4 separate regions of the Homo sapiens genome follow, and regions 2, 3 and 4 are each reported to be linked to region 1. Evidence: microRNA targets listed by miRTarBase, many of them from high-throughput screens and not tested one by one. Region 1 holds a microRNA gene; each other region holds the end of a gene's coding sequence. Distances are between the middles of the regions.

The links. Region 1 holds the annotated microRNA hsa-miR-4269 (GCAGGCACAGACAGCCCUGGC, at 3,873-3,893, opposite strand). A microRNA usually pairs through its seed, bases 2 to 8, with sites in the 3' UTR of a target mRNA and lowers its output. Matches are read on the target gene's strand: a 7mer-m8 pairs with bases 2 to 8, a 7mer-A1 pairs with bases 2 to 7 and ends in A, and an 8mer does both.
Region 2: the mRNA of TSN is a reported target of hsa-miR-4269. Seed matches in the 3' UTR shown: 7mer-A1 at 2,711-2,717.
Region 3: the mRNA of GIMAP6 is a reported target of hsa-miR-4269. Seed matches in the 3' UTR shown: 7mer-m8 at 2,834-2,840.
Region 4: miRTarBase lists TEDC1 as a target of hsa-miR-4269. The part of its 3' UTR that is shown has no 7-base or 8-base seed match.

What each region holds. Positions count from the first base shown.
Region 1 is chr2:239,301,444-239,309,364 of GRCh38, reverse strand. MIR4269 (microRNA 4269) reads right to left here and starts at 3,903; the gene lies at 3,820-3,903. All of the region lies in intron 2 of HDAC4 (histone deacetylase 4), which reads left to right. RefSeq lists enhancers at 1,154-1,800, 6,137-6,226.
Region 2 is chr2:121,761,561-121,769,481 of GRCh38, reverse strand. It overlaps TSN (translin), which reads right to left. Exons shown (of 6, transcript NM_004622.3): 5 at 6,398-6,477; 6 at 1,629-4,348. The coding sequence ends at 4,115. Among named protein-coding and RNA genes, the nearest start is that of TSN, 9.9 kb to the right of the region's middle.
Region 3 is chr7:150,622,165-150,630,085 of GRCh38, reverse strand. It overlaps GIMAP6 (GTPase, IMAP family member 6), which reads left to right. Exons shown (of 3, transcript NM_024711.6): 2 at 1-28; 3 at 1,574-4,711. The coding sequence ends at 2,367. Among named protein-coding and RNA genes, the nearest start is that of GIMAP6, 6.3 kb to the left of the region's middle. RefSeq lists silencers at 339-539, 559-759.
Region 4 is chr14:105,497,608-105,505,528 of GRCh38, forward strand. TEDC1 (tubulin epsilon and delta complex 1) reads left to right here. Exons shown (of 9, transcript NM_001367178.1): 8 at 191-370; 9 at 1,010-1,641. The coding sequence ends at 1,339. Among named protein-coding and RNA genes, the nearest start is that of TEDC1, 10 kb to the left of the region's middle. RefSeq lists a silencer at 1,205-1,499.

The DNA of each region.
Region 1 (7,921 bases):
GAACGTTCATGGCCCCCAATATAAACAGTGTTCTGGGCGTTCTTTGTGACTCTCGAGCCGAAACACTGTGGTGATCTCTCGTATCATCTGCTTGTTATGTAATGTGACAACATGGATATGAAATAGAAACCAGATGTCAGGGTGGAGCGGCTGAATTCTTCCCCAGCGAGGCCGCCGGGAGAGCAGGACTTGGGTTTCTCCTGAGTTACGGCGCCGAACGCCCTGAGAAAAACGCCTTTGGAGCAGTTTCCGGGATTAAGCGAAAGTCTGGGCTGAAGGTAAAGCACCAAGTCAGTACGATTAACTCTTTTTTAAGAAACTTGTAAGGGATTTTCTGTGCTGTTATGTAACTGCTCAGTGTCTTCCAGCGAGCCGGCGGCTTGTTATCAAGAATCCGTTTAGAATGTTTGAACTCAGCCTCTGGGGGAGCTGGGAGCACTGTGGCACCTCCAGGGGCCTGCAGCGTGCTTCCGAGGGCTTGGGTGTAGAGGAAGGGGAACCCGTCTTTCGCCTGTGACAGCCTTGCCCTTGGGTCTGGGAGCAATGAGGACTCGGAACGTGAGCCTCCTGCTACAGGTACAGGCCCTGGGGGAGTGAGGGCGCTGGCGGACAGCAGTCTTGGCACTTCACGTTAGCAGATTCGGAGTTTCTGCAGCGGCTGAACCCCTGCACTGGGCTGGAAGGGGGGGACACCCGGAGGCCTGTTAACCACACTCTGCCTGGACTACACCATGAACATAGATCTTTGTGCTTTTGAAATACAAAAAACGAGCTCACCTGGATACGAAGTGTGGTTCCGGAAGCAGTATCTGGCTGTGGATGGAGGTTATGTATTCCACCAACGATATCTTCATTATTGTTATTTTCCTTTGGTAGCTGATCTTTCAGAGAGATCTGCAGATTCCTCACTTTGCTAAGAAGACTCTCTGAAAACAGGAAGCTAAGGAACTCCTCACTCCCAAGTTGATTACAGCCTCATGGAAGTGTGGAATTCTTATTAGGAAAGCCTGTTGCTGAGTACCAAGCAGGTTATCCTCTTGTCCCGTGTCACCAGGGGGCCAGCTTGATGAGGAAGAAAGTGACCCTGGCTCCCTCGTGTCCCCAAGGCAGTGGACTCCCCCCCGGGTCTCTAGCTCTCTTGTCCCTAAGCTGATAGCTCATCGTCAAGGAGGGCTTCCTGCACGCTGACCACCCCCATCTCACAGATGAGGAAGCTGGGGCCCAGGGAGGGTGAGTGATGGGGTGTAGGAAGGGTGAGTGACAAGGCCCAGAGAGGGCTTGTGATGGGCCCGGCTCTCACCGTTGGGGGTGGGATGGGCCATCCTTGGCTCCTCGCAGCTCGTTGCTGTGTGGCCACTCATTGCTGTGTGGCCGCTCACTTTGGGGGGGATGGGGACACTTTGCTGGCTGTTGCTGCCGGGCCTTGTGTTCCGTTTTCAGGTGGAGATCAGGAATTCTGAGATAGTGGCAAAACGTGATGTGGCTCGGGGTGCGTGGAGACGTGTGTGACAGTCCCCAAATCCACAGTGGCTGTGGGGTGGCGTTTCAGGCTGGGAAACCCTCTGGAAAGAAAGCACGAAACACTCCGACATCCTCATTCCATTTTGCTTGTTCTAAAAGAGAACTTGAAGAAAATCATCCCAGCAGCATTTGCTTAGACCAAGTGCGGTCATGAGAACGTCATCTGAGTGAGGAGGGCTTCTCTTGCATGCGTTTTCTTGAGCAGGAGTTGTCGTTTGGCTATTTGGAAAACCAAGTTTAGGGTCCCTGGTGAGTCTGCGAGGTCCAGGAAGCAGACACTCACTTTATCTAGGTGAGAGGACGGAGCTGCAGAGATGGGCCTTAGTGACCACTGGGCCCTCGTATCTCTGGCAGGTCCCTGATTAGTGGTGGGAGGGGGGTTCCCTTTTGTAGCCACTTGGTCTTTTGACAGCTTGGGGTACCCATCCTTCAAGCCCCTCTCTCCTGGGGCCCAGTGGCCGCCTCTGGGCATCACGGAGAGCCGCTCTTGTGTTGGGGCCTCCGGCTCCTCGGCTCTCTGCTTCTAAACAGAACACCCTCTTGTTTCTGAAAGTAGCCCATGGTCCCCTGAGGGTCCTGAGCACAGCCCCCACTCATCTGAGGATGACCATTGGGGCACGGAGCCTGCCCCAGGCCCTGGGCTTTGTGCCCAGGGCTCTCTTCTCCCTCCCTGTCAGGGTTTCCAGACCCCTCGTGGGCACCCAGGATGGACGGCAGGCACAGAGCTGGAGGGTGTGGCCTGAGATGGGCCATCCGGACGACTCGGGCCTCTGGGCTCACCAGAGTGCTGAATGAAGGCCGGAGGGCGAGAGTGGGAAGGATGGCATCACCCACCCTGCCGGTGGCCCCTATGGTCCTGCGGCTCCTGCTGCTTCTGGGTTACCCTGGGCCCAGGGTGCAGGCGCCCTTGGGGAGGTGCACACGGGAGGCTCAGGCCCTCCTTGGACATTCCTGAACGCCCCCATGCATCCCTGCAGCTCCTTCCAGAAGGTTCTCTCGATCCTGTCTGGCTCCTCGGGGGTGTGTGGGAAACCAGGCCAGGGTCTCCCGGTTGTTGGCTGGGGTGGGGTCCTGCCTTCGCCCCTTAGCATTCACCCCCTACCCCTTTTCACCATGTAAAACCCTGTGGGCCCTGGGCCCTGGATGCTCTGCGCCCGAGGACCTGGGTTCTGCCATCACCTGGGCAGTGTGGGGGGCATATAGGGGGAACATGGGGTGCCTGATGTAGTGCCTGTGTTTGACCTTGTTTAGGTGAAGAGCACCCTTTCCAGCTTATGTTTTGTATCATGACCGGGAAAGGTACGAAACAAGTGTGTCGGGGCCCAGATGATTTGATGGCTCTACGGGCCGAGTATGGGACACAGGATAGCTTGGCCCTGGGTCAGGTATTAGTCAGTCCTTGCTGGCACCTGGGCAGGGACACATCCGTGGATGGGGCCTGGCCAGGTGGCCTCTGAGGTCCTCGTGTCCACTGGAAGGCTGTGTCCTCTGTTGTAGTCACTGACTTGCTGGACCTGGGTGGGAGCTCACCCACCTGTGGATGGGCCAGGGAGCTCCTGGAATCACTAGAAAGATGAACTTTTTTTGCCTTCTAAATGTATGAAAAGATGGGAAATGATAGGAAAATAAGTGGAAGTCAGATCTATTCAGGAAAATGACTTCCCAGGGAAGAGCTGGGGTGCCTCCAAACCCAGAATCCTCGGTTTCTAGAAGCAAGGCTGACCGAGGTGGGCAGCATTCTTTGGGACCTTGAGTGATGAAGTAGTTACTTAAGCAGAGTGTTTCTCATGTGAAGCCAGGCAGTCTAGGACACTAGGAATCATTTCAGCGTGGGGGAGACGCAGACACTGTGCTTGCCCAGGGTGCTGCATTCATCTGAAATGCCGGTGGCTACCAGCTCTTTGTCACGGTTCCTCCGTGGTCTCCTTGAATGCTGTCAGATTCAGGGCCCGTGTGGGCAGCGGCAGCCTCGTTCCCAGTCGTGTTTAGGGAATGGGGTCAGAGAAGTACTTGCTAAAGCTTCCTGTGTGCACGTGTAATTGTGTGTGCATGTGTGTTAAATAAATGTATTTCAACTCGAAATACACGTTTCGTGGCCATCAGTCTAGGGATGGCTAGAATTTAGTCACTAAATGAAACTAAGCCGCACCGTCACCAATAATGTGAACATGATTAAAAACCACACTCAGTTCTTATTCATTTACCTACAAGTCCAGAAACTTTTAGAACTTATTTCACCATTAAAATAAATAGTTTTTTAAAAAATATACAACAATAAGGAAAAATTTGAAAGCCTCTTGCCCCTCCATCCCAGGCCTGACAGAGTGGCTTCCACAAAGAAAGAGGCAGAAGCCAGGGCTGTCTGTGCCTGCAGGGCGCTGTTGGGCTCACAGATGACCCAGACTCCCCCGTAATGGAGCCGCGGACCCACAGCGAGCCACTTGCACCAGGCTTAGCCAAGCTGACAGGCCAGCGGAGTAAGGAATGTTCCCTACCATTGTCCAGAAAATGTAACGAGGGTGAAGGTGTGCCAAGCAGACTCCCCGTGTCAGCCCTGAGGCGACTGCCATCGCTTTCAGAAACCTGACTACCAACCTGGATGAAAACCGACTGCTTGGTCATGGCCATGCAGTTAGAAAACACAGCAGCAATCCTCAGATGAGTGTGGCCGTATTTGTGTTACTCAAGCTGCTTTGTCATCTGCATTTGAAGAAACGTGGTGAGCCTCCTGTGTGTGCCCATGTGGCAGTGGGCACCTCTGCCCCCTGCAAAGGCTGTCTAAGAACACAGAGCCTGCAGTACAGGCCCTGCCTCCTGACATGCCCCAGGCCGGCTGGAAGAAAGCGCGGGACTGTCCTATTGACGTGGGGAGGGGACGGCTGGACTCTGTGATGCTAACTGTGTTCTCTGCTGGGCCATGTGGCTCCCCACAGAGACCCTGGGTGCCCAGTCATTCGCGTTCTCCTATGTGTGTGTATATATATTATATATACATGTATTTACTAACTTTAGAAAGCCCCCAAGGGGGCCTTGTTTCTGCTTGGACAGTCAGCGTCCATAGCGTGTCATTCCTAAGCTCCATTAAGGAGATTCAGAAGCAAGCAGTTACCCCTGGAGTCTGCACGCTGGGCACAAGGGTCACACCTTCGTTGAGAGCTCCTGACCCCAGGAGCCGAGGGCAGGACACGGTAGTGTTTACAGGACCTGGCAAAGGGGCACTGCCTTGTGTGTGAGGTTTTTTCACCAGTCAGTCCCTTTTAAAAACAGCATATCTTTTGAAGAACAAGAAGTTTACGCAGGCATAAGCAACTCACTTTGCACGTGGAGCTTTCAGGACGTTTCATGTCTGTTACGTTATAGCCTCTATCCTCATGGGGGCTCTGAGTTCAGCAGGGCCTGAGCTGTTAATCTGCTTTTTCAAATTATTAATAATGAAAGTAACACCATGCCACCACCTGGTATCATTTCATGCTTTCTATGTGCCTGGTGTTTACACGGCTTATCTCATTTAATCTTCCCAGCATGTAATAAAAATATTGCAACAGGTACTGCTCCTGTGTGGACTCCTTCCCCCGAGCTCACACTGCTTGAGGCCTTCCCAGCTCTGGGCTTTGTGTCCTGTGTGGACTTCTTCCCCGAGCTCACACTGCTTGAGGCATTCTAGCTCTGGGCTTTGTGAATATCCTGCTTTTATCCTCATTTATAGGTAAGAAAGCTGACTCAGAGAGGTTAAGCAGCTGGTCTGAGGTCAACTGCTTACGGGTCGGGGAGCTGGGCCTGCACACAGGGGTCTGATGCAGAGCTGGTCCTATCTGCTTTATAAGCTGTGGCTCACAGGGCACTCCAGGGGCTCGAGAGGACCTGGCGGGCTGAGATGAAGACTGGTGAGGCCTGGGAGGCAGGTGCTTGACTGAGGTGGGAAGTGGGACCTTGGTGCCAAGCATTCCCAGGGCCACGGGGCAGGCCTGTAGGGTCTGGTGGGTATCTGGGGTCCCGGAGAAGCCCTTGGCACGGGGCTTCATGAGAGCATAGGCGAGTGCCGCGCCCTGCAGTTGAGCACGGGGGATGCAGCTGTCGCAGTCGCTTTTGAAGAGTGAGGGGTGAGGCCTGCAGTTGCTGCCCGACGTTGTTTACAAGTGAGCAAGTTTTACAAAAAACATGGACAGCATCAGGGCTGACTTGAATTTTTTACTTGAGGCAGCAGCTCAACCTGTTGGTTTCCTCAATTGTGAATTAAAAAAAAAAAAGAAAGAAAGAAAACAGAGAAAGCTGACAACGTAACATTGATGAGAGGATTCTTAAGGGAGAACAAGCCACAGGCTGTCCCGAGAAAGGAGCGGGGAGATCGAGGAAGCACGCTGCCGTGTCTTGTTCGTGGGGTGCTTGTGACGCTCTCGCAGGATGCCCTGTGGGCCACACCACGAGTGCTCGGTGGCGACTGCAGAAGGGTGAGGGACGTTTCCCTTCACACCAGACGGCGGGTCTTGATGGCAGAGGAACCAGGCATCAGAGGAGGACAAGTCAATCCGGGAGCGTAGATAAAAAGGAAGCGAAACTTATTTCACATTGTCAAGCTGTCGGGGATTCCAGGGACCTTGTCCTCCAGGCCTGTCCCTGTGCCCTCCTGTCCCCAGGCCTGAGCAGCCGGGTGTGGGATGGGAACAGGCCAGGGCCAGGTGCCTCACGCCCTGAGGCTGGAGTCAGGCTCTGTTGCCACTTTGAATCCAGGGGCCCACCCTGAACCCTGAGCTGGGCTTCTGTTCAGTACGCGGAGGTGATGACCTCTCCCACCCGGGGGGGGTTTGAGGACTCCCGAGGTGGCAGGGGTGACGCCCAGCCCAGCATGCAGAGTGCCCAGGCAGTGCCCACACCTTTCCTCTCCCTGCCAAGGTGCTCCGGGCCTGAGCCTGTGTGGCCCCCTGCTTGGGGCTGTCACCACAATGCCATTCCCCGCACGCCCAGCAAGTCCCTCCTATGGGTGAGAGCCTAACTTGAGAGACTCTTTTGGGGAGGAGTAAGATGACCTGCCCTTCTCAAGAGTGAGCAGTTCTTAGATGACTGCCTTGAGCAGCGATGGTTCTTCCTGCAGGGGTGCGCCCACGAAACGCTCTGCGTGAAGCACATTGGTGCCATGCTCAGGCCCAGGGAGAGTGGAGGGTGCTGTGCTCTTGGACTGGGTCCTGGCTCGAGGGTTGAGGGGCTGGGCCATGTCCACAAAAAGTCACTGGATGGCTGGGCTGCTCCCACTGTGTCGCTGGAAGAGGGGCAGCGCCCGCTGCAGTGTTTGGAGTGCTTGGTCATGGCCCCACGTGGATTCTCCTTCCTGGGGGAAGCTGTTCCGTCCCCAGGTTTTCAGCTAACTTATCTGAGTTTTGATGAAGAGAGCAAGGGGTTTTGCTAATCTGGATTCCTGTGGAAGGGCCTCCTCTCTCTGCTCGTGTTTTATAGCTTGGCAACTCTAGTGCTAGTTCTGCAATATTCGAATTTGAGTAGCCAGAAGAATTTGCTGCCAGGGTGGCCTTGCCCTTGACTTTGAAATGAACTCACCCGAGACTTCAGCTTGATGCCTCCTTTGGCTAATGCTGGGTTCTGGGCTTTGGCCGCCGCCTGCCTGTCCATCACAAGGGGCCATGTTCTCCAATCAGGACAGAGTTCTAAGCATTTCACAGTAAAGCCTGCAGGAGTTAGGTTTTCTGTTCTTGACAGACTGAGAATGATACTGAGAATGTTTTCTGATTGATTTGGTGAGCTGTCTGTTTATAGCATCATTAGAGATTATTTTCCATGGCTAGGAATTATTCTTGACCTCACAGTAAAGGACTCTGAATCCCCCACCCCCTGCCTGTTTTTTTTGTTGTTGTTGTGTTTTTTTGTTTGTTTGTTTTAAAGAAAAGACTTGTACCATCAGTCTTAGGCGTAATCTCCTTGGCAGTAGTGAGGAGCAAGGCATCTGATGGAGAAACAAAGCATGGTAAGGTTTTTACCATTCAGGAATCACACCGCAGTAGCATTGTAGTATTTGATCACAATTTACTCTTACTTTTTTTCATAAAGAAAGAAATAGGCCTACAGTGGCTCTCACTTGTAATCCCAGCACTTTGGGAGGCTGAGGCAGGAGGATTGCTTGAGGCCAGAAGTTTGAGACCAATCTGGACAACATAGGAACACCTCCTCTCTACAGAAAAGATTAAAAACATTAGCTGGGCATGGTGGTATGCGTCTGTAGTCCCAGCTGTTCAGGAAGCTGAGGTGGGAGGATCCTTCGAGCTAGGAGGTCGAGGCTGCAGTGAGCCATGTCATACCGCTGCACTCCAGCCTGGGTGACAGAGGGGAGACCCTGTTTCAAGAGAGAAAAATAAAAAAAAAAAAAAAGAAAGAAAGCACCAGCAGAATTTAGAAA
Region 2 (7,921 bases), 120 Mb from region 1:
AAGTCTAAAATAGGGAAAATAGTAGTAGCTACCTCACATAGTTGTCTTATATAAGGACAAAATGAGATAATTAAACAAAATGTTTAGCCCAGCCCATGGAACACATAGAGCTCGCTGAATGTTGGCTTAAAATGTAACACAAATCCAACACAAATGCACACATACCAGAGAACTCTGTCAAACAGGAGAGTGGTCCTGGGGCACCTTCTCTCCCTCCCAAGCCAATTGGTGTTCATGTGTATATGGAAGTATTACAACTATATATTTAACAAATTGAACTAAACATACCCCCAAACTTCAGTATTTTGTCTATCCATTCCTGACTCTCATCCTACAAGATAGGATTTCACTTCCGACCCCCTTGTGGTTTAGCAGGGCCACGTGTCTACCTTTAAACAATGAATTGAAGCCGGGTGTAGTGGCTCACACCTGTAATCCCAACACACTGGGGGGCCAAAGTGGGACGATCACTTGAGCCCAGGAGTTTGAGACCAGCCTGGGCAACATAGTGAAACCCTGTCTCTATAAAAAATTTTAAATATTAGCCAGGCATGGTAGCCTGCACCTGTAGTCCCAGCTATTGATACTAGGCAGGCTGAAGAGGGAGGATCGCTTGAGCCCAGGAGGTGAAGGTTGCAGTGAGCCCAGATTGCACTAATGCACTCCAGCCCTGGTGACAGAGCCAGACTATCTCCAAAAAAAAAAAAAAAAAAAAAAACAATAATTGTCAGAGTGACCAGATCATGTATTTGTGCAAGACACTCCACAGCTCCCTCCCTCTCCCACTAAAACTAGCAATGGTCCAGTTAGTGGCTGCTCTGTCACCCTACATAAAGACAACGTGGAACAGATCCCCAGCTAAGCTGCAATGGAGAGGGAATGTGAGTGAGAAACCTTGTTCTTTGCCTATGAGCTCTGGTGGTGTTCCCACAGGATAACCTAGCGTAACCTGACAGATTAGTCATGGAGCTCCCAGGCTGTAGATTATTTTAAATCCCTCACCCCAAAACTTAAGACCCTTTATTCCCTGGCTTCTGAAACAAGCCACTCTTCCCATTCTGTTAGCCTCTCTGACCATTTCTCCACTTCCTCATGGACTCCATTTCCTCTGCCTACCTTGTTAAGCCATGCTGTTAACCAAGAATTTGTCCCCAGCTTGTGACTCTTCTCATTCTACACGTTCTCCAGGGAGATCTTACCCACTTTTGATTTATCCACCTGCCGCTCCAGTGTCATAAATCCAACACATCCAAAAGCAAATGCATCAGCTGCCCAGCCCCCTCCAGACATGCGATCTTCCTACACTCCTCACCTCAGTGAATGGCACCAAACCTGAGCCAGAAACCTGGCAGCGATGCTAGATTCCTCCCCGTCCCGTCCCATCTCGTCCTACTACCCGCACCCAGCCCACTCAACCAACCCACCAGTCCTGGCAATTTTACCGCCTTTAAATGTTTGTTATTGCTGTTGTTGTTGTCCAGGGGAAGGGACATTGTTTATTTCTGCTTGTTTGATGCTTATTACAGTAGATACTTAAAAAAAAAAAAAAATTATTTCAGGCTCAGGGAAAGTCTTATTTTGGTGTCAGCCCTGACTGTGATGCTCTATCTGAAAAGGAGGACAAACAGTTTAATCCAGACCAAGAAACAAGCAAACTTTAATTTCCGAGTACACAATTATGAAACTATGCCAGTAGCGACCTGCATGTTTGTCTCATCTCTTTAGCCACTTAAGTTCTCAAAACACTGCCAAAGCTTTCCTTCTCTATTAAACTCCCTTAAGCATTACTCATACTATTATTCAAGTTTAAGATGTGGCAAATCTCCCCAAGTGTATATGGCTGGTTCTCTTCTTATAAATGAATCCATAAGACAGTGTCCCCTAATTCATCTCTATTTTCTCTAACCTGCTTGATTTTCTAAAATTGGAAAAAAGTAATTCCGGTATACTAAAACCAGAGCCCAGGTTTCTCAACATCTTCAGTTAAATGACTTTTAATTCCCCAATCAAGGTATAACACACAAATGTTATCTGCGCTTTACAGTATAGAACTCTGAGTGGCTGGTGTCTTTTGGTTAGTGTAACCATTACACAGCAGTATCTGCTTGTCACCCCGGTCTTCTTTAGCCTCAAAAAATATTCAGAATTTGTTATGCACATGGGAGATTTCTTACAGCAGCACACTCACTTACAAAAAGACCAAAAAAATTTTATTGCTTTACAACAAGCCAGCAACAAACACAACTGAATAGTTATAAACATGACACTTCTAAATCCTCAAATGGAATTCCAAGACCAGAGTGTGCTTCTCCACTTTAATAGCATTTGTTAAAACTGAAATCCACAACTTCTGGCAAGTACTTCAATATTCTCAAGCAGAATCAATACTTAAAGAGGTTAAAAGAAAAAACTATTATCAAACGTATTGTCTGTGGGATGATCTAATTTAAAAGCCTTTCATGCTTGATCCTGGCAGTGCTATTACTGCACATTTTAAGTGACCATCATGGGCACTTTTAAGAACCTAACTTCACAAAAAGAGCTGTCACAAGAAAATTGTTCTAAAATCCCAATGCACAGTAACTCATGCCTCATTTCAACTGCTTTCCTCATGATGAAAAAATGTAGTCAGCCTTTAACTTGGCCTGATAAAAGCTGTGAAAGGTATGCCAAATGGCCCCTTGTACAAACAGGAAGCCCAAATTGTTGATCAGGCAAGAAAAGGTGACACTTTTAGATACTTCATATTATTCTGGAAAGCACTTTCCTTTCAGTGGGTGCAAAATAACTACGGATTAAGTCACCATTTTAATCATCTCAATTCAATAGCAAGAGTTTCCTGGCACATACTCTTAGTACTACCTGAAAATTGGGGCGTGTGGGGAAGACCACCAACAGTATTTACATGACTTGCCCCAAACTGTACATTTAAAACATGACTGTTGGGATAGTCACCAACAACCTGAAATTTCTTACTCTAAAACACATTACCAAATCCCACTGATTTATTTTGTGTGTGCTTTCGTGGTTTTTGTTTTTATATAGAGATGGAGTCTCACTTTGTTGCCCAGGCTGGTCTCGAACTCCTGAGCTCAAGCAGTCCCCCTGCCTCGGCCTCCCAGTGTGCTGGGATTACAGGTGTGAGCCACCACGCCCGGCCTGACTTATTTATAATTCACTATTTTATCTTTCTTCCAGACAAAGCAAAGCATTTTTCTCTAACAACATAATAGTCAGGATTTTGCTTATTAACTTACGTGGGTGGCTTTATACTCCCAGAACAAATGATCTAGCTGACTACTAGGAAAAAGGTTTCATAGTTTAGGAATATATCACATCACGTGTTAGTTCCAAATGTACATGAAGACAATTTTTAATTGCTGCAATAGCAGAATATTAAGGCAACATCAGAAAGCAGAGGTGTTTTAAAACACTAAGCCCTACTCCCTGCCTGGTGGAAAACAAAATGATGTTACTAAATCCCTTAATACAAAAACTTTCCAAAATAATCTGTTGAGCTTGACTTCGCAGTTTAATCTTTTACAGTTTGATGGCAGTGAGAGAGAACCTGCAGCTATAATTCCCTTGGCAAAAGAATTCAACATCTGATTTACTCACAATGCTTAAAATAAGGAAGGGAAAATATAAAATAAGTTTTCCTTGCTTGGCAACCATCTTTTTAATTATCTATTTTTATACTGTATCCAGGCTATGCCTGGGTGTGGATGGCTAACTCGCATATAGAAAATATCAAGCATCACATCTGGAAGAATCACAAACGAGACAATGAACTTCTCAATCAGTACATCAACAGTCAAGGTAAGCAAGAAAAGGACTTTACCAAGAAACTAACATTTACACTTTCTGACGGAACTGAAATACACTGAATTACAGGCATATTCACTGAAACAACAAAAAAAATTCTGTCCATGTAAAGGCTATATTTTTTACCCCCAAAAAAGTGTTTCAATTCTGATACTCACACCACAACTGGTTAAGAAAATAAAGCGCAGTGTTTAGCAACTGAGCATCCTAACTACCGTAAGAGGCACTCTGTGCTCACCCCTTCCTGGCAACCGCTGAGGTCAGCAAGGCCAGGAGCAAGGAGAGCCTCCTATTTTTCAACACAAGCTGCTGCCGTCTCCTTATTAAAGCCCCGGATGGAGAGATCATAGACCACTTCCTCTACTTTCTTCACGTCATATTTCAATCCGTCGTAGCGCTTCCTCAGGGAGTCATTTTTCAGGTTGAGAAGGCGAAAACCGGAATCCAGCTCATTGATGAAGGTGGAGATGTGGAGGGGTCGGGAGTAGTCTCCAGCAGTCACGCTGTTGACAGACAGCCTCGACTGTACCAGGAAAGAGAAAACAGGGGCTTGTTACAACATGGCTCCTTCTCAGCGCATCTTCCTCTGAATCACAACCAGAAGAACCGCAAGCCTAGACAGCCACGCTGATCTTCTATCTCAGGGTACACACAAGTACAGACAAGACAGGAGCTTCTCTGAAAAGAATCCCACTGAAAATGAGACCAGTTCTGCCAAGTAAAATTTAACATTACTAACATCTAAAATTTCTCTAATTTCTTAAACTGGCTATTGCATAATAAAGTGTTACATTACACAAGCATCTTTACAGCTCATCTGCTATCATATCGAAGAAAGAAACGACAAAATAATCACAGCAGCTCCACTACCTCTTCCAACCTTGGCCAAATGATCACATTTCTAGAGCCCACCTACTAAGCTGCAACTCCAGTCACCTAGAATCAAGTAAGGCAGACTTGGGATAAGAATCTAAAATTATGTTAGTGTAACCCTGTCTTGAAGGAGAACTAACATTGATTTCAAGACCCAACCCAAGACTCCCCTTCTCGGTGTCAGTATACAACCCCCTACTGCTCCATTTGACTGGCTTTAAAAAATATATTAAAATAATAAAAAAGATTCCCCTTTCTGTAAAATCCTCTCCACTTTTCCAGGCTTACCCCTTTAGTGCACTGTCAACATACGGGTTTTTTGTTTGTTTGTTTGTTTTTAATATAGAGAAGGGGTCTTGCTTTGTTGCTTAGGCTGGTGTGGAACTCCTGGCCTCAAGGGATCCTCCCACCTTGGTCTCCAAAACTGCCAGCATTACAAGCGTAAGCGACTGTGCCCGGCCCCAACATGTATGGTCCTAAAGACACCTTACACTTAACTAATACTAACAAGATGCTTCCTGTTTACTGGTCAGGTGTCTCCAACAAGCCAGACAAGTGGTACAGCCTACAAGTGGACCCCATCATCCATTCTCACCATCTTCCTCAGGTTTTCAATGCACACATACCCACTCCAATAGACTCCATTTCTGCCTCCCTGCAGGCAAGGCACCAGAATGTTAACAGAAGTTGTGTGTACAACTTCAAAGAAATGTCCTTAAAGCGGGAGGGCATACCATTTTCCCTATTTCCTCCTACTGCTGGCTAGAGTGAAGATGTGACTAGAGCAACAGTTCTGGAACATAAGAAAGAAGCTGAAGCTAGAAGAACCTAGGGCCAAAGATCAAGGAATCATCAGACCAGCCCTGGACTGCTTTCCTCTGGAGCAAGGACAAGCAAACTTTTTCTTAACGAGCCAGATAGTAAATATTTTCACCTCTGCAGACTGGCACAGTCTCTATCACAACTACTCAATTTTGCTACTGACAGCTTTTTTTTTCTTTAGACTTTTACAGGGCAATTTCCCTAGATAGTGGTTAAAGGAATAAAGGATAAGAATAACTTAGTTATATAGACAAATGAGTGTCCAAAACAATTACATGGATTAACAGTTACCAGGAATAAATGTTTTGCCACTACCCTAAAAGGAAGAGGTCTTATCATCGGTTAAAAATTCTTAACTCAGTAAGTATGCACTCATCATTTGATCTGGCTTTTCTCTGATGCCTAGTAAATTGTAACACATACAGTGCCAGTCAGTGACTACCTGGTGACCGAGAGATGGCTTAGAAAAGAATTAAGACGTTCTGAATTTTGGTACCCATTTTAAAAACAGACAGTGGGCCAGGCACAGTGGCTCACGCCTATAATCCCAGCACTCTGGGAGGCCAAGGTGGGCGGATCACGAGGTCAGGAGATCGAGACCATCCTGGCTAACACGGTGAAACCCCGTCTCTACTAAAAATACAAAAAAAAATTAGCCGGGTGTGGTGGCGGGCGCCTGTAGTCCCAGCTACTCAGGAGGCTGAGGCAGGAGAATGGCATGAACTCGGGAGGCGGAGCTTGCAGTGAGCCGAGATTGCGCCACTGCACTCCAGCCTAGGCGACAGAGCGGGACTCTGTCTCAAAAAAAAAAAAAAAAAAAAAAACTGACAGTGAAGCAGAAAGATCAAAAAAGCAACCAGCAAGTTACTGAGCTTACCAGTTCACTGGCAAGAATTAGAACTCCTGAGAGATAATCTTCTACATCCAGATGAAATCCTTTCTCCCGATCTGGCTCAACTAAAAAACACATGAAAATAAAGTCATGCTGTGAATGCAAGTTAAGCCTCAGAATATAAAAATATACACATAATTTCTCCCAAAGTAAGTGAAGAAAGGATGAATCTTTTAAAAACTGGCTTTTTAATATATTCACAACCTTGGCAACTAGACCTCACTATGGATTTTTTGAGTTCTTAAGCAAAATTCAATTCAGTCTTCCCTCAAAAATACTATCAAAAACAGTATCTAGTTGTGTCACAGAATATACTTCTTGTTAGAAAGCACATGATAAAGCATTTCAGAAAGGAGTTACGATATTTGCAACTTTCAAATGGCTGACAAAGACACACACAAAATGAGAAGATTAAGCAGATGTAGCAAAATGTTAACAAGTGGTAAATCTAAGTGGCATGTAAACAGGTATTCATTGTACTATTCTTTCAATTTTTCTGTAGGCTTGAAATTTTTAAAAATTCAATTTTAAAAACTAAAGCAAGTGCAAATGTGTTTGCCATTGTTATTTTTAGCTTTTACATTTCCAGGTAGAGTCGGCCCTCTGCGCTAACCAACTATGGATAGAAAATATTTGGGAAAAGGCCAGGCGTGGTGGCTCATGCCTGTAATCCCAGCACTTTGGGAGGCCAAGGCGGGCAAATCACGAGGTCAGGAGTTCAAGACCAGCCTGGCCAACATGGTGAAACCCTGTTTCTACTAAAAAAATACAAAAAATTGGCTGAGTGCGGTCACTCACGCCTGTAATCCCAGCACTTTGGGAGGCTGAGGCAGGCGGATCACCTGAGGTCAGGAGTTCAAGACTAGCCCGACCAACATGGAGAAACCTCATCTCTACTAAAAATACAAAATTAGCCGGGTGTGGTGGTGCATGCCTGTAATTCCAGCTACTCAGGAGGCTGAGGTAGGAGAAATGCTTGAACCCAGGAGGTGGAGGTTGTGGTGAGCTGAGATTGCGTCATTGCACTACAGCCTGGGCAACAAGAGCAAAACTCCATTTCGGAAAAAAAAAAAAAATACAAAAAATTAGCTGGGCATAGTGGCAGGCACCTGTAATCCCAGCTACTCGGGAGGCTGAGGCAGGAGAATCACTTGAACCTGGGAGGTGGAGGTTGCAGTGAGCGGAGATTGCACCACTGCACTCCAGCCTGGGCGACAGAGACTCTGTCTCAAAAAAAAAAAAATATTTACATAGCACTTATACTGTATTAGATATTTTAAGAAATCTAGAGATGATTTAAAGTATGTGGGAGAATGTGTATAGGTTATATGCAAATACTACACCAGTTATATAAGGGACTTGAACATCCTCAGATTTGGGTATTGGAAGAGCTCTGGAAGCATCATCCTCAGATACCAAGCTACAACTATAAGTGGTTTTTAGTTAATTCTTGTTTGTTTTAATAAACAAAGTACAACCACCCTTTCCACCAAAAAGTAAGCAACCATG
Region 3 (7,921 bases), not on the chromosome of region 1:
CAGGATCCTGTGCTGGAGCTGTCAGGAGGTAAAATGAATGAGGAGAGGGGAGCAAGTGGGAAACATTTGGGGTGCAGGTGGGACACAGCTCCACCACCATAGTGTGCTTGGAGAGGAAGCTGACGTCCCCCAGTCACAGAAATTTACCCGCCTCAGCCACCATCAGAGGCCTTTGGGGTAGGGCCCTTCTTATCACTAGCCAAAAATAAGAAAAAAGACCCCTGGATAGGTATGGTAGATAAAAGGAGGCGAGAAATAGCACCAATGACTAAATCACCATGCCAGTCCCAAAGGAAATGCTTTCACATGGTAGATGTTCTTCCTCAGGATGGATGTGCTGACAGTGCGTGTGACGAAAATAAGTGGCCTTGGACTGAGGCTTGGATGCCAACAGACCCTGTATGGGTGTTTGGCTGACTCCGAAGTGGAGCTGTCACAGTTGTAAGTTTGAAAGCGCCTTGTGCACAAGCAGAATGTACTTGGCTGCTGCCTCAGATCTGGGCTCTGCCTTATCGAGGGCGTCCCTTTCCCAAAAGCCATTGCACAGGGTCAGGCGCTTAACTTTCATGGGCTCAACTTCGTCATTCATCCTGGGGAGGCAGGATTTACAAATGCTGGAAACCCAGCCCTTTCCTGGCCAGAAGAAATGATTTGTGATTCATTATGTATTTTAATATGAATGACCTTTTACTTTATGAACTTAAATGGCCTGAGCCATCTGGAAAAAGCCACGTTAACCTACTACAATAGGGACATTACCAATACCTGTGTAACACCTGTTTGACCTTTTGTTATAGCAATCAAGGTTAGCTATTCTTTTAAGAATCCTCTCCAGAGCTCAAGTGATGCATTTGGCTTTAGTAAAGTCCAGTGGTGTGTGCTAGCTCCAGGCTGCTCAGATGGGGGTTCCTGTCTCCTCTGGCTCTGCACTGGGCTAGGTGGGTGGGGATGAAGATCTACTGCCCAGACTTCTGCCCATTCATTCAAATTCCTTCCAGCCACCTTGGGGAAGCTGGAGGGGGCCCAATGTCACTCAGTTAGAATTGGCACGTGGGTCAGAGCCAAGGGTGGCTGTCAGGCCACAGCAAGGCCTGTTGGTGCCCAGGAGATTCAGGAGATGGCCACGCCCATGCTGCCACATGCCAGCTTCATGCTTTGTCATCTGAGATACATCAATGTCTTCAGTGGGGACAAGACTGGGAAACCAGCTATTACTTGTCACTTCTTTATGTGCTCTGGGTCTTGGGACCCGCAAGGCCAGGAGAAGGGAATTCCCTTCCTGCCTTCTTCCCCAGTCATATCTAAAAACCTTGGTATTGGGTTTCTTGGTGTTCTATTGGCCAAGTCTCGCTCTTCTTTCTAGGCTCTGCTCTTGCACTGGGAGAGAACGTTCAGCCCCACCTTCAAGGATGTGGGCCCAGAATGGTGGCCCAGCGCTGGTTTCAGGGCAGATGTTGGTCTTTTACAATCTGCCCCTGCAGTCTGGGGGTACACCCAGAGGCTCCTGGTGATGACAAGATGGGGTACATGGGCCCTTACCCCAGTTCCCTCTGCTTTCTTTGGATATTTCTAGGTCTAAGGGAGAAAGAACAGAAGACCCCAAGGAGACTGAGGCTCATTCTCATGGGGAAAACAGGGAGTGGGAAGAGTGCAACAGGAAACAGCATCCTCGGCAGGGACGTCTTCGAGTCTAAACTCAGCACCAGACCCGTGACCAAGACCTCCCAGAGACGGAGCCGAGAGTGGGCTGGGAAGGAGCTTGAGGTGATTGACACACCCAACATTCTGTCCCCCCAGGTCTCGCCAGAGGTGGCAGACGCTATCTGCCAAGCCATCGTCTTATCCGCCCCAGGGCCCCACGCCGTGCTCCTGGTGACACAACTGGGCCGGTTCACGGATGAGGATCAGCAGGTGGTCAGGCGCCTGCAGGAGGTCTTTGGAGTGGGGGTTCTGGGTCACACCATCCTGGTGTTCACCCGGAAGGAAGACCTGGCTGGCGGCTCCCTGGAAGACTATGTGCGAGAGACCAACAACCAGGCCCTTGCCTGGCTGGATGTGACCCTTGCACGGCGCCATTGCGGCTTCAACAACAGGGCACAGGGGGAGGAGCAGGAGGCCCAACTGCGAGAGCTCATGGAGAAAGTTGAAGCCATTATGTGGGAAAACGAAGGAGATTATTACAGCAACAAGGCTTACCAATATACCCAGCAAAACTTTCGGCTGAAAGAACTACAGGAAAGGCAAGTAAGCCAGGGCCAAGGCTCTGAGGACGTGCCTGGTGAGGAGTCTTGGCTGGAAGGACTGTCCCAGATCCAGAAGGAATCTGAGGAAGCCCACAGATGCCTGCTGGGGAAGGCTGACCTTTGAGCCTGTGCTGGACTTGAGCCAAGGACACCATCAGCCTTTGCACCCCCCTGTGTCCAGCCCTCTGTTTCTCTTTCCATCCCATGGAGTGCTTCCCAGTCTCCAGGTCATGACGTCTGGTGTAGGAAGAGGGGCATGGGGCTTGAGGACAGGGTCCAGCATGCCCAGATCACATTCCAGTTCCTTCATTCCTTCTTCCAGAACATCTGGGTCCTCCCTCCTCTGTGCCCCAACAGCACGCTGTCTTCCTATTGGACCTTCTATCTCATTGCATTGCCTTTCATGAGTTACTTGTCTATACTCTGATAGAACCAAAGTTTCTTGAGGGCAGGCCTGTATCTTTTACTTCTGTGTAACTTCCACAGCTTTTGACTGCATTGGAGTCATGCAGTCACGTTTGGTGCGGCAACTCCATGCAAGCTGTTGACCAGATGACTTCTCATCTCTCCCCACACCATGATGGTTTAAGGTGCCTGTTGTGTCTGGTGGCTGGAACATGGCAGTGGTGCTGAGACATGGGGAGGGTTGGAGACTGGGTGGGGAGGGTTGGAGACTGGGCTGGGAGGAGAGCAAGCAGGAACAGGGATGGAGGCAGGAGGAGCAGCCCTTTTATTCACTCTTGAGCTGTAACAAACAAGCCCCGTTGGAACTTCCTAGTGGGAATGATGGGAGAAGTTTGGGGCAGGGTATCCAAGAAGTCAGACTGTGGTCAAGTAGGTGGTCCCTTGCCCTGGCTACAGAACATGGAAGCCCCTAGGGATGCAAGTGGACTTGGGCAGAGGAGGTCACACCACCCCACCAAGGTAGACTTAGATTAGAGATGACTTGCATCTGTTACTTCCCCTTTTTCCATGGGTTTCATGGCCCCTCATGATATTTGCCTTCTGCTCCTAGAAGGCACAGACTACTTTCAACCTGCCTCGCCCTTCACTGCCACCCCTCCCTTCTCCCTTGATAATGGGAGCATGTGGATGGGGTGTCTGCGTGTGCAAACGGGTTCCCTAGCAAAGTATTTGTGGGGGTCCAATGCAAGGAGGCAGGGAAGAAAGGGGGCCTGCAAAGGAAGCAGTAGAGTGACTTAAACATCTTGCGAGGCAGCCTGCCTGGTTTATGGGAGAACTCTGAAGCCCATGATGTTTTCCTGGAAGGCTGTTCCTACAGACGGGGTTTATAAGTACTGATACTGGACAGGATGAGAAGGGAGTAGGATGTCATCCTGTCTCAGGCCTCGGATAGGAAGCTGCCTGCCAGCAAGAGGAGACTGATGTGCCCCGGGTGCACCCCACCTCCTTTGAGGTCCAAGATGCTCCTGGGGAGTTGACCGACATTTGGGAAGATAATAGGAGGCATTGGGGAAACTGCTCCCCAATATATTCCTCTTTTCCTTTCTTCAAGCTGCGTAGCAGGGGGCCTTTAGCTAGTTTCTCCCGAGAGGGGCGGGAAGTACAGCTGGTGGAGACAGTGCTGGGAGATGATCAGAAATCTCAGGGCACAGCCTCAGGTCTACCTGGACACTCATCCACTGTTGGAGATGCTCAACAGCTAGACACAGATGCTCACAGCCGACCTGTGGCCTCTTGCTCTGAAGCCATCCCCCATCTTCCCTAGACACAGCAGACATCTGAGAAAGCTTCAGCATTTCTCTTGCTAACAGATTCAGAAAAGTGTCTCAAAGCAGAGCACAGAGTTATTTGGTGTTTGCTGAAGACAGCCTTTGTGCCACAATCACTTATTAAATAAGCGATCAATTTCCCATTGAACTGAACATGCAACATTTATCATACATTCAGTTCTCATTCACACTCCTTAAGATTTGGTCAGAATTTTTATTTCTGTTCATGTCTTCTACTTTTCTACTCCTGTATGAATAAAATATTGATTTGATTACAGTGGCTTTGACTATAATGTGGGAGCCAATTTTTGCCTCAGTCTTCATTTTTATATTTACCTTGTTATTCTCAGGCATTTTTTTCTTCTATGTGAGAGTTAAAATCATTCTGTAATTTCCCCCCAAAATCATATTGGTATTCTAGTTGGCAATGTCTTACATTTATGTTAAGTTTGAGGGAATTGGTAGTTCAAGTATAAGTTAATTAAGGCCATTTTATTTCTAAGTGAACAGACTTGAAACTCCAGAGCTACTGAAGTAAAAGTTAGAATCATTTGCATTTTCATTCAGATAGGAGATAATTTTGTAAATTTTGATGCTATTATTTTAACTCTATTAGCTTAAGTAATGTCATAATAGAAAACACAAGCATTTGACCAAATGAGATCCATTCAGCGACTAACTGGCAAGGCACTCAAAACATGTCATTCATTAAATGTTGTTTTTATTTACCTCAAATATGGTGTTTTCTCTCTTTTATTGCTAAGCACCAGGAAAGATATCTCCCATGACATTTCAGGAATAGGGATAGATGTCTCTGCATAGCTCTCACTCTTTCAGCTTCAGAGGAGAATGGGGAAAGCATGTGTGGGTATGTTCTAGAAACTCTAGTCTATCAACCAGTAAGAAATTAGTGGTGGGGGGTGATGGTGATGAGAGAGGGTTGTCTTGGCCAAAGCTGTGATAATAGCAGCTTTTAGAGTTTGTTAAAAATATCTCTACACTAAAGTGAAGGATGAAAAACAGGGATTTGGAGAATTTGAGCTAAGTCAGTACAGGGTTTTTCCTCCTTGGTGGATCAAAGCAGGTGTGGAGTGTTACAGAAAGATTCCAGCCTCTAACCTTTTTGTGATAACATTTATAAAGTGCATAGAAAATTCAAAATTATAATACTAAGAAAATAACTTTGAAGGCATGGGAAATGGCTAAATGCAGGTAGACACTCATGCAGAGAACCTGACCCCTAAGATGAGGGGACCACACTAGTCTCATCTTGGTGTGACTTTTCACATTAAGGCAGTATTCAGTCGTGTGGATGCAGACATGGCACACACCAGATGTTCACAGTGGCCTGGAGGGTGGGAGGGTGGAGCCTGGGACAACCAGAGCAGGTAAAAATTTACATGGGAGCTCCCCAAAATAAAAGAGCTGCAGAGCGGGGAGATGGAGTGGTGGGGATTTGCGGGCTGGGTACCAAAAGCTCTGCATTTCTCCCTTCAAATCCTTGGCTGACCCTGAACTGTACAAGCACAGGGCACTCTCCAGAGGATCCCAGGAAAACTTCTGTGGAGGTTGAAAGAGCTGATCAGAGATGTCAGCAGTTGCCCACAGTAGCAAAGAGAATTGCAAGTTCCAGTCCATCAAGTTAGAAGACCTTGGTAAACTTGTATATTTCCACTGAAATACCAAAAGGATCATATTTTAGGAGTAAGTACTGCATCTCAGCACTGAGAGACTTGCCCTAGAAGGAAGAGCAAATTAAAGCAAACCCTTGCTAATGATGTCTAAAATCAAGCCTTCCCAAGGCAAAAGCGATCCACCAGTAATTTAAGTGCCCGTTGGAACAAACTCAATATTCTGCAGAAGATATAATATCCAAAGCCTCTACAACATGTTACCTACAATATCCTTTACCTTACTAAAAATTCTTCTTTTCGAACATATAAATATAGAGATATAAAATGTCCTTCTGTGCATGTTTATCTGTATCTCACACATTTTTATCTTTTTTTTTTTTGAGACAGGATCTTGCTCTGTTGCCCAGGCTGGTGTGCAGTGGCATGATCATGGCTCACTGAAGCCTCAACCTCCTAGGCTCAAGCAATTCCCCCACCTGAGTTTCCTGTGTACCTGGGACCACAGGCATGCATCACCACACCCAGCTTAATTTTTTAGTTTTTGTAGAGATGGGGTCTCACTTTGTTGTCCAGGCTGGTCTCAAACTCCTGAGCTCAAGCAATCCTCCTGCTTCAGCCTACCAAAGTGGTGAAATTACAGGCATGAGCCACCACGCCTGGCCCACATTTTAAAATATTCTATTTTCACTATCGTTCTTTTAAAATACTTTCTATATTTCTTGTGCTGTCTTTTTTCACTCATGGATTATGTAGAAGTGTGTATTAAAATTCCACGTTTGAATATTTTCTAGAAACGACAGTATCCAATAAGGTAGGTATTATCCACATGTGGCTACTGAGCACTTAATATATAGGGGTACACCTGAGAAACTAAATTTTAAATTTTATTCAGTTGTCATTACTTTTAAATTTTGAAACAGTGTAAAATATTTTACCATGAAACACAACTTTACTATTTTGGTGGAAATACCTTTACCTCTAACTGTTGCCTCACTTAAGATATTACAGATCATCCCTGACTTATGAGGGTTTGACTTAGGATTTCTTGACTTGATGATGATATGAAAGTTCTGTGCATGCAGTAGAAAGCCATGTGACACCCTCTCACGAAGCTCAGCTGTGGCAGTGAGCTGCAACTCCCAGTCAGCACGCGATTACTCTGGTAAACAACTGCTACCCTACAGTGTACTGTTGCCAAGCTATAATGACCAGCAGGTTAGGTTTATTGAGTGCATTTTAGACTTTCAATATTTCACCTTACAATGGGTTTATCAGGACGTAACTCTGTTGTAAGTTGAGAAGCATCTGAGCCAGGCATGGTGGCTCACGCTTGTAATTCCAGCACTTTGGGAGGCTAACACTGGAGGATAATTGGCCCAGGATTTCAAGACCAGCCTGGGCAACATGGTGGAACCCCATCTCTTAAAAAAAAAAAAAAAGAAGTAAAAGAAAAAATCTGAAAATAGAGATGTATCTGTATTGGACTGCAAATGTGTTGCCACATGGATTGTTTTCAGCACCATGTATAAATATATCCCTGATCTAGTCAGTGTCAATGGATTGATTCAATTTGAATAATTTTTTATCAGGACACAATATCTTTATTTGAATATTTTATGTAGATAGCATGAGTTATAGTTACACCTATCTATATTGTTAATGATAATTAAAATTAAATGCTAATTATTATTTTATTTATAATACAATTAAATTACTTTTTAGCTTAAAATAAGTATAGCCAAGTTTTAATTTTGAAGTGAAGGTATAATGCTGATGCAGAATTGAATGGAGATGATTAAGCTAGTGCTACAATTAGAACAGGAAAGAGAACTATAGATTAGCAGAAGACATGTTGCAAATTTCATGATTAATAGTAATTATAATACGCCACAGTACAGCAAAAGAAAACACACACCTTTTTTGTTGTGTTAAAAAAATGGAAAGATAATGGAGTGTACTATTATGAAGAGACATTTTCAGCAGATACATAGGGTGCTTGATAAAAAGCTTTCTCTCAACAATCAAAAACAGAATTGACAAAGTTAGTCACCTGGAGCCAGAATTAAACATCCAACAACGAAAAACTAAAGATGTTTTAACAGGATCTGAGCTTATGACTGACAGCAATAAAACTTGGATTATTGCACACACACAAAACAACATTTTTAGTTGGAGAGAAGGTACAATAAATTATTACTTCAGTTACAGAAAATTTTGTTGGAAAACGTGGCAGAAAAAAACTTAAAAAATTAAATGTATAGGAAACATGAAAAGTCTTCCATTAAGGCACCAAAAAATGCCCACAGAGGCA
Region 4 (7,921 bases), not on the chromosome of region 1:
TCACTGCTGCCCCCGCCCTCAGCTCCATGGCCTTCTAGAGTGTGGCCTTTGTGCCTCCCTGGACGTCACAGTTGCTGAGATGGTGGCATCCAGCCCGCTGTGGGACCTGGGGGACTACCACTGCCCTCTTTGCCCTCTGTCCCTCTGTCCCCTTGGCTTGGTGCACGCTGTCTCACTTGGGTCTCTGTAGGACACGGTCCTGGGCACCTGTGCCCCGGAGGTGCCTGCTGCAGCCTCACAGCCCACCTTCCTGCCCTGGGTCCCCGAGCGCGGGGGTGGCGAGTTGGACCTGGTAGTGCGGGAGCTGCAGGCACTGGAGGAGGAGCTGCGGGAGGCTGCGGAGCGCAGGCGGGCGGCCTGGGAGGCCAAGGTGAGTGCCAGCCTCGCTCTGGGCACCAGCCCAGCCCCACCTTCGGGGGATGGCTGACCTGAGGGCACTTTGGACTTGCTGAATCCTACAGTTGCATTTGTCAAGCATGGCAGGGGACACACTTAGAGGCACGTACCCTGAGGGAGCGGGAGGGCACCTGGTGAGGAGCCGCAGCTGCTGCGAGACAGCCCCCGCCCCTCCTGCGGGAGGTCTGTTGTCTGATTCTTTGCATGAGGGAGGGAAGCCCGTGCTGTGTGGGCCCTGCTGCTCCCATGCGTCCGCCACACATGCATCACACGGTAGTAGTCACTCCTCCACACCTGCCTGGGACCCGTCTAACCTCCTGGTGGCCACCTGGGCCTCCACCCTAGACTCAGAGCTGCCCGCTTAACCTGCGCAGGTTCATGGCTGTGAACACGGGGCTGTGTTGGCTCCATCTATTTTCTTTTTCTGAAGAGTTTTAACTTAAATTGCAGGCATGATTTTCCCCTTAAAATTTTCAGTAAGCCTCTCTGAAGAGCATGGGCGTTTCCCGCATGCCTGCAGCGCCTGCACCTGAGTCTGGGCTCAGGGAATGCTCAGGGAGCCTGAGGCCAGTGTCCTGGGGGGACAGAGCCATTGCCATTGTGTCCCACGCAGGCTGGAGGCTGTGGACGGGGGCCAGAGTGGAGTGCCGCGCGGCGGGCCTCTCGGGAGGCTGTGGAAAAGGAGCTGGGAGCTCTACAGCAGTGCTGGGAGCGAGACGGTGGCCCGGCCCAGCCCCATGGGCCACACCGGCTGGTGAGACGAGAGGATGGGGCAGCAGGGGACCGGGACCTGCGGGCAGCTGTGGTGATCAGGACGCTGAGGAGCCAGGAGGCCTGCCTGGAGGCGGTGCTACGTCGACTACAGGGACAGTGTCGGCAGGAACTGGCCAGGCTGGTGGGAGCCCGCCCTGGTCTCATCTGGATCCCGCCACCTGGACGCTGAGGGCCTGTCGACGGGCCCTCGTGTGGGAAGCCTGCCCTGGCCCAGCCTGGCTGGGTCTTGGAGGAGCAGATTCCAAGGCCAGGTGGCCGCAGGGACGATGCAGATGCAGAGCCCACGTCACATGCTCGCTCCAGGGGTGGGGCTGGGCTGACTCTGGCCGGATCCCAGGCCTGTGGCTAGCAGCACTGGGGACAGGAATGGCTGGTCCCTTGAGGAGGTCGTGACAGGCTCAGCCTGGTGGTCTGGAGGGGACTCGGAAATAAATTGTAGCAGCTTTCCTGCCGCTGGCCCTCCCCCTGCCACCCTGTCGGGTTTCCCTGTTTGGGGGTGGGAGCGTGGAGGAGCCCCTGGGCAGTGGTGGCCAGTGTAGGGCTGGCCAGGTGCTGGAGGACATGCATACCCCAGCACTGGTGAGTGGCAGGACCACGGGGAGGTGGCACAGGCCTCCCTGGAGCGGGATTATCTCGGCCCCGCCCCCCTTCATTTGGGCTCCCGCTGTGGGCCTGGCCCTGGGCTGTGAGCACAGCTGCCCCCACCTCCGGCCAAGGCTGTGCCTGGTGGGTGCGCCGGATGGGAGCCCGGGGCTCTGCTCCTTCCCGGGAGGTGGTGCTCCGGGTGGGGAGGCACAGCATGGACAGAGGGGCTTTGTTCCAGAGGCTGCTCAGCAAGCTCAGCTCATCCCTGACAAAGAGCCATCTGTGTCCGGGGGACGTGCCTCAGCCTGGCGGAAGGAGGGTCGGCCTCATGGCACCCCCCCCGCCCCCCACCAGCAGACACAGGTGGCCCTGAGGCCTCCAGCCCTGCCTGCCTTGCCGGGCTCCCCTCTCTTCTGGGGCTGTCGGACTCTGACCTGAGGTGGGCAGACGATGGGGCTTGTGGGGCCACCTCCAGGCTCCTGCCGGCCCTGCCCCGAGGCCACGTCCATTCCCCCTGCCAGAACATGCTCTCACTGGGGCATGTGCCTGAGTGACAGCACACACCTGGGGCTCCAGCTCCAGTCTCAGCCTGTCTGGGCCTCCTTGGTCCCAGGGGTGGACACGCCTAGACCGCCTGCCTTCCCATTCCGGTGCATGGGACCCAGGAGCACCGGCAAGACCTGGCCGTGGCCAGCAAGGCCTCCCTTTCAGGAGCACCTCTCTGACCCTCTCATGCAGCTGGGCCTCCTGTGGGCCACCAGGATTTGTGCAAATGCTCCCTGGCCTGCGCCACCCTCCGGCCCCTCCGCCAGCTCCTCCTAAGGGCTCCTGCCACCTCCACCTGCTGGTTCCAGCTCTGTTCCAGGCCCTCAGACCTCAACCCTCCTCCACCTGCAGCCTCTGAAAGTCCCCCGTGCTCTCAGCAACCCTCGACTGCCGGACAGGGCTCTTCTTGGGCTGGGAGCAAGTCCACTTGAAGCCCTGCTTTTTATAAACTGCCACAGAACCAGGACTCTCACGGGCCTGGGGGACTTGATTTTTACGAGCACAAAAGCAGGCTTATTGTCATGGAGTTGTCACCTCTCGATGTGATGCGTGAATTCAGGGCAGTCCAAGTCCTGGGTGCGCGTGTGCCCCCATGATGCTGGCGGTGGAGAGGGCCTGAGAGGCCAGGGCCTGCGGGAGGGAAGCCGGCAGGGTGCCCTAGTGCTGCCCGTCATGATGGAGCAGGGATGGGACCCTGGCCTTCAGCTCTAGTTGTTATCACACATGCAGTGGCTCGAGTCGCCTGAAGTCACGCCCTCTTGTTCTGTGGGTCGGGGGTTGCCAGTCCACAGGGTTAAAGCTGGATGGGCAGGCAGGGCTGTGTGGCCCCCAGCTCAGAGCAGGCATGGAGGTCCTCACAACACTGCCTCTCTGACACTCTCCTGCCTCCCTCCCCTGCCTTCAGGAGCCCGAGTCATCCTCAAGACCCCCATCCCCTCTGTCCCCATAGACTTCCTGTCTTAAGGCCAGCTGCAGCTTTTCCCTTCTGTCTTGCGACCTGCCCCAGACCCACGGAACAGCCTGGAGGCCCACGGTGTCGGCCTGGCTGGGGCAGTAGGGCCCTGCACCCTGGACGAGCCAGCATCTGTGTAAGGACAGTGCAGTTTGCTTCCCAGGAAGACAGAGGCGAAGATGGCCTCACAGGAAACAGCAGAGGTCACCTGGCGCGTGAGACCAAGTGCGCTTACTGGAAGGTGCAATAAACTTCAACAAAACTAGAAATTTTTTTTTTTTTAAGACAGAGTCTTGCTCTTGTCACCCAGGCTGGAGTACAGTGGCGCAGTTTCGGCTCACTGCAACCTCCGCCTCCCGGGTTCAAGCGATTCTCCTGCCTCAGCCTTCTGAGTAGCTGGGATTACAGCAGTGCGCCACCATGCCCGGCCAATTTTTGTATTTTTAGTAGAGATGGGGTTTCATCGTATTGGTCAGGCTGGTCTTGAACTCCTGACCTCAGGTGATCCACCCGCCTCGGCCTCCCAAAGTGCTGGGATTACAGGCATGAACCACTGTGCCCGGCCAAAACTAATGTTTATTAAGAGGTGGTGCAGCTGGATGCAGTGGCTCATGCCTGTAATCCCAGCGCTTTGGGAGGCCTGGATGGGAGGATTGCATGAGCCTGGGAGATCAAGACCAGCCTGGGCAACATAGGGAGGCCCCACCACTACAAAAAATAAAAAAAGCAGCTGGGTGTAGTGGCATGTGCCTGTAGTCCCAGCTACATAGAAGGGAGGCCGAGACAGGAGGATCGCTTGAGCCTGGAGACCAAGGCTATGAGGCCAAGTGAGCTATGATCTTGTTACTGCACTCCAGCCTGGGCAACAGAGTGAGACCCTATATGAAAAAGAAAAAACGATTAATGAGATGGAAGTGCAGTGTCTCATACGCTTGCCTATTCTGTTCCGGCTGGCTCAGCCTTCCTGGCCTCTGCTTCCCTTTCTGCACTACTTCAGGGCTCCTTCACCTGGTCCTGGCTGACCCTGCCTTGAGGGATGAGGCTGGTTGGGACTCCGGCCAGGTCAGGATCACAACCTCTGGGGCCTGTGGTGGTCGCACCTCCCCCTGGAGCCCAGGGAATGTGTCCTACGGCCTCTGAAGTCCCGCCTTGGTTGGACAGGAGGGTTTCTCTTTTTTTTTTTTTTTTTTTTGAGACAAGATGTTGCTCTGTCACTCAGTGGCACAGTCAGCTCACTGCAGCCTCCATCTTCCAGGATCAAGTCATCCTCCCACCTCAGCCTCCTGAGTGGCTGGGACTGCAGCCTTGATCTTCCGGGATCAAGTCATCCTCCCACCTCAGCCTCCTGAGTGGCTGGGACTGCAGCCTCGATCTTCCGGGATCAACTAATCCTCCCATCTCAGCCTCCTGAGTGGCTGAGACTACAGGCGCGTGCCACCATGCCCAGCTAATTTTTGTATTTTCATTTTTAGTAGACGCAGGGTTTCACCATGCCGCCCAGGCTGGTCCCAAACTCCTGGGCTCAAGTGATCTGCCTGCCTCTACCTCCCAAAGTGCCGGGATTACAGGCGTAGGCCACCGCTCCTGGCAGGAGAGAAGTGTTTCTGAGTGGTTCCTGTTTATCTCATGGGGACCCTGACCGCTCAGTCCACACTGCCCTTGTCTACCCCATGGCCTTGGGTGTGGTTGTGGCTGGTGGCTCTGAAGTCCTGCGCCTGGGCTCAGCCTCCAGCTGTCTGTCCCTGCGTGTGAGCCTGCATTGGCTCTGCAGCCATCCCTGTCCTCAGAGTGGTCGGAGGGTGTCCTGCCCGGCCTCTCGCTGCCCTGCCTGGCTGTGCTGGGCTGGTCCCTCAGTCATTCTACCTGAAGTCACGTGGTGCCCAATATGTGCCATTCTGAGGGGCCCCATGGCCATGTCCCAGAGGGAAGAGCAAACACCATAGAGGAAAGTGCTCACAGCTGGAGGACATGGGTGCCCGCCGGGGCTCAGCCCCAAGGGGGGCACAAGCTGAGAGTAGGCAGGGCCCAGGCTTCTGCCCCCATCCGCTGGTGGGGAGGTTCTGTGGCTCAGAGGAGGTGGGTTTGGAGGACAGCTGGACTAGGTGGGTTCTGGCCCACTGGGGCACAGGATTGGCCGCTGTCTTGGTTGCGGGTGTGATGTAGGGAGCTGTGGTGGCTGGGCCCATGGTGGTTTGAGAACTGGGCAGGCTGGGGTGGGCACTGCTGCTTGGTAGCCCGGCTCTGACCTGCTCACAATCTTGGCATCTTAGTGGGTGTCAGGTGGGCAGTTGGCTGCGTGAACCTGGAATTTGGGGCTGGAGAATGGAATGTGAGAATGCAGGGTGTGGGTGGGCTCAGCCGGGGTGGGAGGCAGGGCAGGGCAGGGCAGGGCCCCAGGGTGCGGTGGGCCCGGGGCTGGTGAGGGGCCCGGGGCTGGTGAGGGGCCTGGGGCTGGTGAGGGGCCTGGGTCTGAGGCCTGAGCCTGGGCCTGCACAGTGGTAGGAAGCACAGGCAGGGCAGAGGGGATGGCTGGCAAGTGGGGGTGCGGTCAAGTTGGGGGTCTTGGTGGCCAAGTAAAGACAGTGCTTCCGGACGGAGGGGCTTATCACCTGTGCTGCTGAGGGACAGGGCCGGGGGCTGAAGATCACGCTTGGAGTGGGGGCTACACACCTGACAGAGGGGGATGAGGGGGGCCACGGAGGAGGACACCAGGGCTGTGCTCTCACCAGGTCTCCAGGGTCTTGCCATAAACTGCAGCGAAGACATAGGATGCTGGCTGCAGAGGTTTGGGCTGCAGCCTCCTAAATGTGGGGCCTGTATCTTTTTAAAATGAGCCTAGGATTTGTTGTAATCAGGGAGGGTAACACACAGACGCAGGAATGACCGTCTTGTAGGAAGAAAGTTCTTTTATCCACAGAGAGTGGGGGCTGCTCCACGCAGCTGGGTGGTCGGGGCACAGGAATGGGCAAGACGTCAGCATCAAAACTACAGAAAAAGACGCGCTTAGTGAGGTGGTACAACAGCTACCACGACCTCAGCTAATAAAAAAATGTGGGCCTTGAAGTGGGGGACCCATGGCTTGTCACGCTGGTGGGAGGCACCGGGCTTGGGGAGGCACTGGGCTGGAGGGGGCGCCGGGCTGGTGGGGGCGCCAGGCTGGAGAGGACACCCAGCTGGCGGGGGTGCCGGGCTGGTGGGGGATGTTGGGCGGGCAGAGCCCTGGGCTGGTGGGGGCGCTGGGCCGGTTGGGGTATCGGAGGGGACCGCCAGGCTGGAGGGGGGGGCGCCAGGCTGGAGGGGGCACTGGGCTGGTGGGGTGCTGGGGTGGAGGAGCTCTGGGCTGGTGGGGGCGCCTGGCTAGAGGGGACGCTGGGCTGGTGATGCCCCGGGCTGGTGGAGCCCTGGGAGGTGGGGGTGCCTGGCTGGAGGGGATGCCAGGCTGGTGGGGCCCTGGCATGAAGCTGGCATTGTGATCAGAGTGTGCTCCAGTGACTTGGAAAGCAGACACACCACTGCCAGCCCTGTAGTTTCAGGGAAGAGGGAGGAAAAGGCCTGGATGTTACTGGCGAGGGCCGTGTGCACCTGGCCCCACGTCGCCCCTAGGAGATGGGCTGGGGCGAGGCCTTGCCGGCATGAGAGCAGAACCAAAGGGCAGTAGAGAGGGAGGGAGTTCGGGGCCTTGCCTGTGGGAAAAACCTGCTGCTCCTGAGCCCAGAGTACAGGAAGTTCAAGAGCCGTTTAGCCACGAAGTCCTATTAATTTAACATCCCTCCGTTAACTGAAGGGCCAGGACCTTGCTGTGAACGTCCTCCTAGGGCGTGGCTGTCGACAGTGAGGGACAGAACTGCTAGATGAGCAGCTAGGTGGGAGGCTGCGGGGCACTGGCGAGATGCCTACTTTTTTTTTTGTTTTTTTTTGAGACAGAGTCTCGCTCTGTCGCCCAGGCTGGAGTGCAGTGGCGTGATCTCGGCTCACTGCAACCTCCACCTCCTGGGTTCAAAGGATTCTCCTGCCTCAGCCTCTTGAGTAGCTGGGACTACAGATGCGTGCCACCATGCCCGGCTGCTTTTTGTATTTTTAACAGAGACGGGATTTCACCGTGTTAGCCAGGCTGGTCTCAATCTCCTGACCTCGTGATCCGCCCGCCTCGACCTCCCAAAGTGCTGGGATTACGGGCGTGAGCCACTGTGCCTGGCCCCACTGCTGGTTTTTGATAGAATCAAGTTGCTAAAGAGACGTGAGCCTGGCTGCAGAAGGCCTGGGCCCCAGGACTGCACCAGCAGGAAGAGACTTTGGGAAAAGCCAGCCCAGGAGGGCGGACACCCTAACGCTTATCCCGAAGGAGAGGGACCAGCAGGCCCATCCCGGGAAGTAAAGCCAGCACCCTGGGCCCGTGGACGAGGGGTCTTAGCTGAGAGCGCAACGCGTGTGGGCCAGGGTCTCCTCCGAGGACGGCCTCACTGGTGCCCTTTATGGATGGGGCCTTCTACTGAGCGGCCCTGCCAGGCGTCACCCTTGTACCCGGGGGCCAGGTGGGCAGGCGGCTCTTGTCCGGCATGTAATGGAGAAACTGCAGCCCTTGCAGATCCTGGAGTGTGCAGGAACTAGTGGAATGTGGCAGCCACTGCCAGCCCCTCCCTCCAGTCACTTCTTGGGGTCTGTTTGTGA